Regions from separate parts of the Homo sapiens genome. Here region 2 is linked to region 1. The links come from fine-mapping of genetic effects on gene expression. Tissue or cell type: amygdala. Region 1 holds a variant in brackets; the other region holds the start of a gene. All regions are shown on one strand. Distances are between the middles of the regions.

What was found. PIP is the estimated chance that this variant, and not a neighbour inherited with it, causes the effect.
Region 2: ZNF19 starts here. The variant in region 1 is fine-mapped to the expression of ZNF19 in amygdala (GTEx, PIP 0.95).

The regions. Positions count from the first base shown.
Region 1 is chr16:71,516,819-71,521,970 of GRCh38, reverse strand. LOC105371335 (a long non-coding RNA gene) reads right to left here. Exons shown (of 2, transcript NR_135172.1): 2 at 4,125-4,366. Among named protein-coding and RNA genes, the nearest start is that of CHST4, 7.0 kb to the left of the region's middle. The variant A/G (reference allele first, on the strand shown) is at 2,422.
Region 2 is chr16:71,486,217-71,491,368 of GRCh38, reverse strand. It overlaps ZNF19 (zinc finger protein 19), which reads left to right and starts at 2,045. Exons shown (of 6, transcript NM_006961.4): 1 at 2,045-2,097.

The DNA.
Region 1 (5,152 bases):
AGTGAAAGCTGGAAATGTTTAGGAAGGAGGGAGCCAGAATAATCTGGAAGCAGCAATGAGGAACAAGAAAACTTATTCCATTGTGGAGTGTAAGAAACAGCCACCACTTGAGAGGACTGCAGAGAAAGCAGTGTCTTCAAGGGAGACCTAGTTTCCTTTAGAGCAAGAAAGTGAAGAGGAAATTAAGACACTTCGAGAAAAGATGGATTTTGTGGATCCCAACAAGGGTGTCGGGATGGGGAGGGTGGGAAATGGGGTCAGAAAATGAGACATTTGGAGCCATTTGGGATGAAACACAAGGGATAAGGAACAACTGAGGATCCTGGGCTACTTGTGTGACTGGCATAAACCAGGATAAAGGAAATAATAACAGATAATGATGGCCTCCAGGAAGATAGTGGTGGCCAAACTGAAAACTTGGGGAAGGGCAGTGTGAAGTACCTGCTGGAAGAGGCTGGGGTGCTCTCTCTTTACTCTTGGCAATGGTGACGTGGAGGCCAGGGTAGGGGTGTTGTTGAAACTCTAGACATTGAGAAACTGCATCACCACTTCTCCAAACAATGCAAAGCATCTGGAGTCAGCTTGGTTGAAGGAACAAGATTTTTGGGCTGGGCATGGTGGCTTATGCCTGTAATCCCGGCACTTTGGGAGGCCAAGGCGGGCGGATCACCTGAGGTCGGGAGTTCGAGACCAGCCTGACCAACATGGAGAAACTCCATCTCTACTAAAAATACAAAATTAGCTGGGTGTGGTGGCTCATGCCTGTAATCCCAGCCACTCGGGAGGCTGGGGCAGGAGAATCGCTTGAACCTGGGAGGCGGAGGCTGTGGTGAGCTGAGGTCATGCCATTGCACTCCAGCCTGGGCAACAAGAGTGAAATTCCATCTCAGAGAGTGAGAGAGAGAGAGAGAGAGAGAGAGAGAGAGAGAGAGAGAGAGAGAGAGAGAGAGAGAGAGAAAGAGTCTTGACTGAGGGAGAAAGAAGAGATAGATCACGGAGCACTGAGGGACTAGGTAGTTCTCCAGGGGATATCACAGGAGTTCCTGGGTGCTGACCTGTGTGACATGAAGTCATGTAGTCATACAGTTGGGGTGGATACAGTGGCTCAAGAATGCCATTGGGTGACTTATTTCTACAGACCATCAACTTCATGCTTATTGCCTCATGGCCAGGAGACAGCTGTGCACATCTAGGGCTCACATCTACATTCCAGACAGGAAACTGCAGAAAGGTTAATAGCTGCAGGGCATATGCATCACATAAAGTAAAGACGTGGAAGCACTTCAGTCTCCAAAGCTCTTGGTTCATGTGGGTTGCTCTGCTTAAAGCGCCCTCTCTGCTTTATTGCCTGGTTAACTTGCGTCTTCTCTTTCAAGATTCAACTCAAGTCAGCATCACCTTCTCTGGGAAACCATTCCTTATGTCCCTAGGCTGAGTTAGGTGCCCTGGTCTGTGTGTTCAGAGCTCATGGCAGATTGCCATGATGACCTCCATTCTCCCATCTTTGTATCCATGCCCTATGACATATAACTCTGCCTGGGGTCTCAGCTATGCTACTCGCTTTGATTGTAGGGATTTTTTTTTTTTTTGAGATGGAGTCTCGCTTCTTTACCCAGGCTGGAGTGTAATGGCACAATCTTGGCTCACTGCAACCTCCGCTTCCAGGGTTCAAGCAATTCTCCCGCCTCAGCCTCCCCAGTAGCTGGGATTATAGGCATGTGCCAGCATGCCCGGCTAATTTTTGTATTTTTAGTAGAGACAGGGTTTCACTATGTTGGCCAGGCTGGTCTTGAACTCCTGACCTCAAGTGATCTGCCTGCCTAGGCCTCCCAAAATGCTGAGATTACAGGCATGAGCTACCGTGCCTGGCCTGTTGGGATGTTTTTAAGCAGAGGCTTTAAAGTAACTTGTGCAGTTGGACATGTTCTTGCTCTTGTGTCTTAGTCACTGCCGTGAGATCATGCCTGCTGGATGAAAGGCACGGGAAGCACATCCAAATTACCATGGTTGTCCTAGCTGAGGCCATCCTAGATCAGCCAATGGCAGCTAACCACCAGACACTTCAGTGAACCCAAGCCAAATCAGCAGAACTACCTAAGCAACCACCCTAGATGCACAAGAAATGAGGTTTTATTGTATACCACTGAAGTTTCATGGCTGGTTGTTACTCAGCATTATAGTAGCCTTAGAAAATTGTTGCAGAGTCCCTTCAGCATAGCCACAAGCCTTAGCCATGTCTGTCTTCCCAACTCACGTTGGGAGAGAATCACCTTTTATCTGTGTATATTACCTCTTGCCTGTGTATACCTAGCACGTAGCACAATGCTTGGCCCATAGAAGGCGCTTGGTGAAAGTCTGGGAAAGGAAGGAATGAATGAGCCTTTGTTCAACCTTAAAAAGGAACTTTTTTTTTTTTTTTGA[A/G]ACAGAGTCTCTCTCTGTCACCCAGGCTGGAGTGCAATGGCATGATCTCAGGTCACTGCAACCTCTGCCTCCTGGGTTCAAGCAATTCTCATGCCTCAGCGTCCCTAGTAGCTAGGATTACAGGCGTGTATCACCCTGCCCAGCTTTTTTTTTTTTTTTTTTTTTTTTTTTTGAGATGGAGTCTTGCTCTGTCGCCCAGGCTGGAGTGCAGTGGCGTGATCTTGGCTCACTGCAATCTCCGCTTCCCGGGTTCAAGCGATTCTCCTGTCTCAGCCTCCTGAGTAGCTGGGACTACAGGTGCCTGCCACCACGCCCGGCTAATTTTTCTATTTTTAGTAGAGATGGGGTTTCACCATATTGGTCAGGCTGGTCTTGAACTCCTGACCTCAGGTGATCCACCCACTTTGGCCTTCCAAACTGCTGGGATTACAGGCGTAAGCCACCGTGCCTGGCCTAATTTTTGTACTTTTAATAGAGACAAGGTTTTGCCATGATGCCCAGGCTCATCTCAAACTCCTGACCTCAAGTGATCTGCCCACCTTGGCCTCTCAAAGTGGTGGGACTACAGGCGTGAGCCACTGCGCCCAGCTGAAAACAACAACAACAACAACAACAAAAAACAGGTGCACATTCCCTATAACTAAACAATGTAATCAAATACACGCACCCACAGAAAACCTGGTCCAACAAACATATGTGAAGCGACAATATAAAACCAAGTCTCATCACTGTTTAAAGCACTTTTCTACCTCAAGTACAATGATTGTCTCTCAAACATGGGGCACTTAATTTTACATTTTATTGTATTGTATAGTTCAATCCAAAGATAATCTAAATCCCACAAGTACATTTTAAAAGGTCGAAGGTAAAGAAGTAGATATGACTCAGTGTCGATATTTTTTCTATTATTTTCAGTACGCAATACTAAATCACTCTAACCACTGACGTTTCCTAAACAATGTCAAGAAACTTGCATTGCTTAAAAAATTATTTGTATTAACATTAAAAACAGAATTTCCACTAGGAGACCACAGAGGACACATGTATCTAGTAGCCTAGTTAAGTATGTGGCTGGGGTGGCGAGAATATCATCTTTATGAAAGGTCAGTGTTCACATGGGATTGTGTGTTTGAGGCACACTAAGAAAATTAATTTTGTCAAAGAAGAGGGTTTCTGTAGAGCAATAGTGAAAAAGGGTGTGGATAGGGGGCAGAATAGAGCTTAATTGTGGAAATCTGAGTGTAAGGTTAGGGCATTTTTATATTCTACTTAGCAGAGAATAGTTACAACTTTATTTTTTATTTTTAAGACAGGCTCATTCTGTTATATAGGCTGGAGTGCAGTGGTGCAATCACAGTTCACTACCACCTTGACCGCCCGAGCTCAAGCGATCCTTCCACCTCAGCCTCCCAAATAGCTGGGACTATGTGTTTTTATTTTGTGTAGAGAAAAGGTCTCACTTTGTTGCCCAGGCTAGTTTTGAACTCCTGGGCTCAAGTGATCATCCTGTCTTGGCCTCCTAAAGTGTTGGGATTACAGGTGTGAGCCACCACATCTGGTTGCTTTCAACCTTTGAGCAAGGGAATGACATAATGAAGTGTTGGGTCAATCTAGCTGCTAGATTCTAGCAGTATGGTGAAGTGGTTTTTGCAGAAACATGTTTAATAGTCATATCAAATAATTTAATGCCAAAACACTATTATGCAGATATACCCATTTATTTAAAAATCACATATTTCTTAAAGTCTAGATTGATGCGAGGATGCAAATGAACAAGAAATCATTTTGAGATCATAAGGTTTGCTCTTCTCTTCCTAATAGTCATCTAGTTTGTTGCCCGTTGTGAATCCATGAATTACTCGTTTTTTTTTCTGAGTATTGGGTTGTCCTCATTTTCCTTTGTTTTGCCTTTGATACTCTCCCTTGGGTCCTGTTGGTCCAGTTCCTTGAAAAAATAATTACAGTAGGGGTAGAGGTCAGAAGTAAGAATGAATGAGACTCCATGAAGCCAAAACCAGAATCAACATTGGGATAAACTGTTTTAAGCTCCCTTTCCAAGAACACAGTTCACCCGAGTTATGATAGCATTTACCTTTTGGGTGTGAGGATATCATTTTGCCTTTGAAGTGTGTTTCATAATCCACTGATTGGACACATTGCTATATTGCTGTCACTATTTCTTTTTATTCAAGAGGAACTTAAGAGTTAGGAAGGATAAATAACTTTGTCCAAATTATTTTGTTATGTTAGTCACAGAAGCACGTCTTTTCACACTCCATGCCTCTCTAAGACCTGCTGTTTCTTCTAGAATATTCTCCTCCCCACCTTACTCCCATTCCACCTGCCAAAAATTCAGCCTTCTAAACCCTGTTCAGATATGCCTTTCCTGTGCAACCTTCCCTTCTCCCCGTGCCAGTTCTTTCTCCTCGCCCCCCAAAGTAAATTGTACAAACCTCTGTAATGATGCACATGCGTTTACATATATGCCTCCCTATAGGACTATAGGGGTCTTCCATTTTGTGCCCCCAGCACCAGCATCTAGTACACAGTAGGTGCTTAATTAACGTCGGATACAAGATTAGAGAATCTAAAGGCAAGGAGGGAAATTTTAAACCCTTCCAAAATCTAAGCAAAAGATAAAGAGGCAGCACCTAAAACCACCCCCACTTGGATTAATTTTTTTTTTCTTTTTTTTTTTTTTTTTGAGACAGAGTCTCGCTCTGTCGCCCAG
Region 2 (5,152 bases), 31 kb after region 1:
TTTGGCTTAACATATTTCAACTTCTTCACTATGAGACACAGAACTACGTATCTGAGGCAGTGATAGAGTGCTTATGTGTGTATACTGAGGCCAAACTATCATGGTTTGAATTCTGGCTCTGCCACATAAGAGCTGTGCATGACTTTGAGCACGTTATTTAATCTTTCTGTGTTCAGTTTCCTCATCTGTAAAATGGGACTCGTGTCATCTTATATGGTTCTTTGGCCCTTATTTCAGAATTTGATGATTTTTCCTCTTACAGTTACTGTTGCTCTTCTCTCTCTCTCTTCCTGAAGGGACTGAGGTCAGAAAGCTTGTGTCCACGGTGTGAGAGCATAGAAAGGCGTATTGGGACTTGGAATACCACTTAGTATATTGTTCTGGAAAGCCAGTTTGACATGGTGGAAATAATCTAGGGTTTAAATCTTAACTCTGATACCTATTATATGCTGTGGCCTTACTGAAACTCTTTGAGTCTTGGTTTTCTCTTACTCATGATTCATTCTGCGTTGAGTGCTTGTATTATCTGTCCCACTCTCCCTTATAGTAAGGGAGTATAATCATATATGTCCAACTCTTTATTCATCAAAAAATGATTATTGATCATGAACTGTGTTATAAACACTATTCTAGAAACTCAGGATACAGTCATGGACAAGATAGAAAAGCCTCTTTCTTGAGGAGTTTACACTCTGCAGAAAGCCTGAGGGTTGCTCTTGAAGACCTGGATCATGGTCCCATTTGTCTGGACTTGTGTTGCTGAAGTCCCAACTGAACAGCAAGTCCAACTAGTCATCCTGGAAGTCCTCAGCTCATGATGAGCTAGCTATTTTAGCACTCTGATCTTCTAAGAACCAACCCTGAACTGCCACCAGGCTTTGCTTATACTATCTAGTCTGGTAGTAAAAAGTGTACAGATGCCCAAACCCACTGAGGTTTATAACCATTTTCAAAGGTTTTAATAAAAAGATTGAATACTGGATTAACTCCAGAGCCTATTCAGGCTCAATTCCTAAGCTATTAATAATCGCTAATATCTAGTGAGTGTAATAATTACTAATATCTAGTGAGTGTTTAGTATGTGCTAGACATTGTACTGATTTACATGTACTAACATCTAATCCTCACAACAATCCGGGGAATAAATACTATTATTATCCTAGTTTTAGAAATAAATGTGACACTTACAGGTTAAGTAATGCACCAAAGGTCACAGAGTGGTCCTTTGGCCTTTGAAACAAAGCATCCTGATGCCAGGCTGTGCTCCTTACCACTATGTCATACTGTTGTAAAGGAGATGGGACTAAGAAGCTCTAAGTCCCCAGTTTGTTTTGTAATTCTGTGACAGTGATCACAAACGTTTTGACAGTCCAGCAAAATCCTGGCCAGAGTTCTCTTTTGTGGACCCAGAAAGCCACAGGCACTAACACTTTAGAGCTATCTCTCTTAGCCCATATGCCCTGCGCTTTTGGCATTTTCTTTATCATTTAGAGGGGAAGGAGGGCAAGGGTCTGAGGAGCCTTGAATGGTGACTTGGACTCCAGGGGTAGTGGCAAACCATTGGAGGTTACAGTGCATGGAATTAAAGACAGCTTGAATGGTATAATCTGACTGGCTCATTTTACAGAAGACAAAAGCTGCTCAGAGACACAAGGGTCTTCCTCAATGGCCCGTGAGTGGCAGAGCTTGTGAAAGGAAGTTGATTCACTGCGAGTGAACCAGAACTCAGAAAGACCAGTAAGCAACCAGGAAACACCGGCCACCATCTAGGCCTGTGGTGATGGCGGTTTTATCACGAATTCCTTCCTGACAATCAACTGCTCCCGGGCAGAAGCGATCGCTTTCTTGACCCACCCAAATGGACAATGACCCAGGCGTGAGGTTCCTGAGGAGAGAAAAAAGTGTGTACAAGGAAAGGAAGAGGATGTCTCCCAATCGGAAACACCGAGATGCGGAAAAGTTGCACCGTAGAAAGAGCAGCCGTGCTCATGACGCACTTCTGGCCTCCAAGCGCCCCACAAGCGTGACGCACTTCCGGCCTCCTAACCGTTCTCGCTAGCGGTGCGCTTCTGGCCTGTTTTGAGTCCGCGCTCAAAGGTGCCAAAGTGCAAGGACCCACAGTTGGGCGGAGCTTGGGTTGGGAGTGAGACAGCATAGCAGTCCAGGCTGGTCCTTTGAGCGCAGCTCAAAGAAGGGGACGGGGAGGGCGTCACTATACAATTGTGGCCGGGTGGGACCTGGGCTGTTTGCTCTTGGAGGCTGTACAGCTGCAAGCTTTGCCGCTCACGAACTGGAGCTGGAGAAAGAGCCCCCCAAGGATGGGAGGATGACAGAAGTGTCTGCAGATGGCACTGCCTGGGCACCAGGAGAGGCAAGGACTCCAGCTGATTCCTACCTCCTAGGGAAGCCATCCCCACTCTTAGTTGGGGCCGGCTTAAGTCTTTAACCAAGGCTCTTGCAGTTGCAGTGTCTGTTTCTTTTGAAGAGGCAGATTTGGAGACCTGTGTCCAAACAAATGCCATTGTCCCATAGTGTTTTTATGTTTTTGTTAGTTTGTTTTGGTTTTTTTGAGACGAAGTCTCGCTCTTGTCACCCAGGCTGGAGTGCAATGGCACCATCTCTACTCACTGCAACCTCCGCCTCCCGAGTTCAAGTGATTCTCCTGCCTCAGCCTCCCGAGTAGCTGGGATTACAGGTGCCTGCCACCACACCCGGCTAATTTTTGTATTTTTAGTAGAGACGGGGTTTCACCATGTTGGTCAGACGGGTCTCAAACTCCTGACCTCAGGCGATCCGCCTGTCTCGGCCTCCCAAAGTGCTGGGATTACAGGCGTGAGCCACTGTGACCAGTCTGAACTCACTTTTAATTTTAGGAGCTTGTTTTGTAGATTCTTTGGGACTTCTTATACAGATAATCATGTTGCCTGCAGATAGTAACAGTTTTGTTCTGAGTTTCGAATCTGTGTGTCTTTCATTTCATTTCTTTTTCTTTTTCTTTTTTTTTTTTTTTTGAGATAGTCTCGTTCTGTCACCCAGGCTGGAGTGCAGTGGCATATTCTCAGCTTACTGCATCCTCCACCTCCCGGGTTCAAGCAATTCTCATGTCTCAGCCTCCTGAGTAGCTGGGATTACAGGCACACACCACCACACCTGGCTCATTTTTATATTTTTAGTAGAGATGCGATTTCTCCATGTTGGCCAGGCTGGTCTTGAACTCCTGGCCTCAAGCAATCCATCCACCTTGGCCTCCCAAAGTGCTGGGATTACAGGTGTGAGCCACTGTGTCTGACCTATGTGCCTTTTATTTCTTTTTCTGGCCTTGCTCTTGCTAAGACTCCCAATATGATGTTAAATAGTAGTGGTAAGAGCAGACATACCTGCCATGTTCCCAATCTTGGAGGGAAAGACATTCTGTCTTTCATCATTAAGTATGTTTGCAGCTGCAAGGAGAGAATAATATTGAATTATATGTCAGTATAGATACTGCAGCACAATATTTAGCTTAACTACATATTTTTTTGCAGCCAAGGCAAAAATGACTTTGTGCATGAAACTTAAGTTCCACCACAGCCTCAGCCTATTTGTGGCTGGGATTTTCAGACATATGGGAGAGAAGTTAGTATTTTCAAGTCAGGATTAAGTAACAGTAAATATGCCATGATCATACACCATACTCTGGGTATCATGATCTGATATTACTTATAGCTTCAGTTAAAGATACTGTAGGAGTTAGAGGGAGAGCTGGATAGTTAGGCTGTGAGGTGACCAGAAAGAAAGGTGGTTCCCATTGGAATCTAAGGAATGGTCAAAGCTTGAAAGTAATTATGTTTGATGGTAGAGATTGTGACAGACATGAGTATGAGTATTGTATTAGTCCGTTGTCACAGTGCTATACAGATATACCTGAGACTGGGTAATTTATGGAGAAAAGAGGTTTAATTGGCTAACAGTTCCACAGGCTGTACAGGAGGCATGGCTGGGGAGGCCTCAGGATACTTACAATCATGGTGGAAAGCAAAGGGGAAGCAGGCACAATCTTCACATGGCCAGCAGGAGAGAGACAGCAAAGGAGGAAGCGCAACACACTTCGAAACAACCAGATCACATGAGAACTCACTATCACGAGAACAGCAAGGGGGAAATCCGCCCCCATGATCCAATCACCTTCCACCATGTTCCTCCCCCAACACTGAAGATCATAATTCAACATGAGATTTGCCTGGGGACACAGAGCCAAAACATATCAAGTATACATTTCCTTAGAGGTGATACATTGGCTGGGAAGACAGGTCAGTGTGAATTAGCTATTATTATTAATGATCTTGAAAACTCTCTGGGAGACTTTCCAGACAAATGAGAGTGGAAATTTTCTTCCTTTCCACTCCCTGCAAAACAAAAATAAGTTATTCCCAACTCTTTTTGTTTTTAATTTTAGTGTTCCCATCTTCTGGCCAAGAATATACTCAACTCTTCACCAAGTAAACATACGGGTTCCCATGTTTCTAAAAACCGATAAAATTAACAATAGAGACTTGTTTTTGTTTTATATCCAGACTTAATGGTCATTTATGTAATGTAAATATCCAGAATAGGCAAATCTATAAAGAAAGTGGTTGTCTAGAATTGGGGGAAGAAGAGAGGTATGTACATGTGTGTCTATTAATTTTCTATTGCTGCTGTAACAAATTGCCATGAGTAGTGGCGTAAAACAACACTAATTTATCTTAGAGTTTTGGAGGTCAGAAATCCAAAATGGGTCCCACTGGTATAAATTCAGGATTTAGACTAAGGAGAGAATCTGTTTCCTTGCCTTTTTCATCTTCTGGAGGCCACCCACTTTCCTTGACCCTTGGCCCCTTCCTCCATCTTCAAAGCCAGTGAGGTTGGGCCAAGTCCTTCTTGTGCTGTCATTTTTGTGATTCTCTTTCAATTCCCTCTTTCACGTTCAAGAACTCTTATGATTACACTGGGCCCACCTGAATAATCCAAGATAATCATCTTTTTTTTTTTGACAGGGTCTCGCTTTGTTGCCCAGGCTGGAGTGCAGTGGCTCAATCAAGGCTCACTGCAGCCTTGACCTCCCAGGCTCAAGTGATCCTCCCAACTCAGCTAGTAGCTGGGACTACAGGCGTGTGCCCACACCTGGCCAATT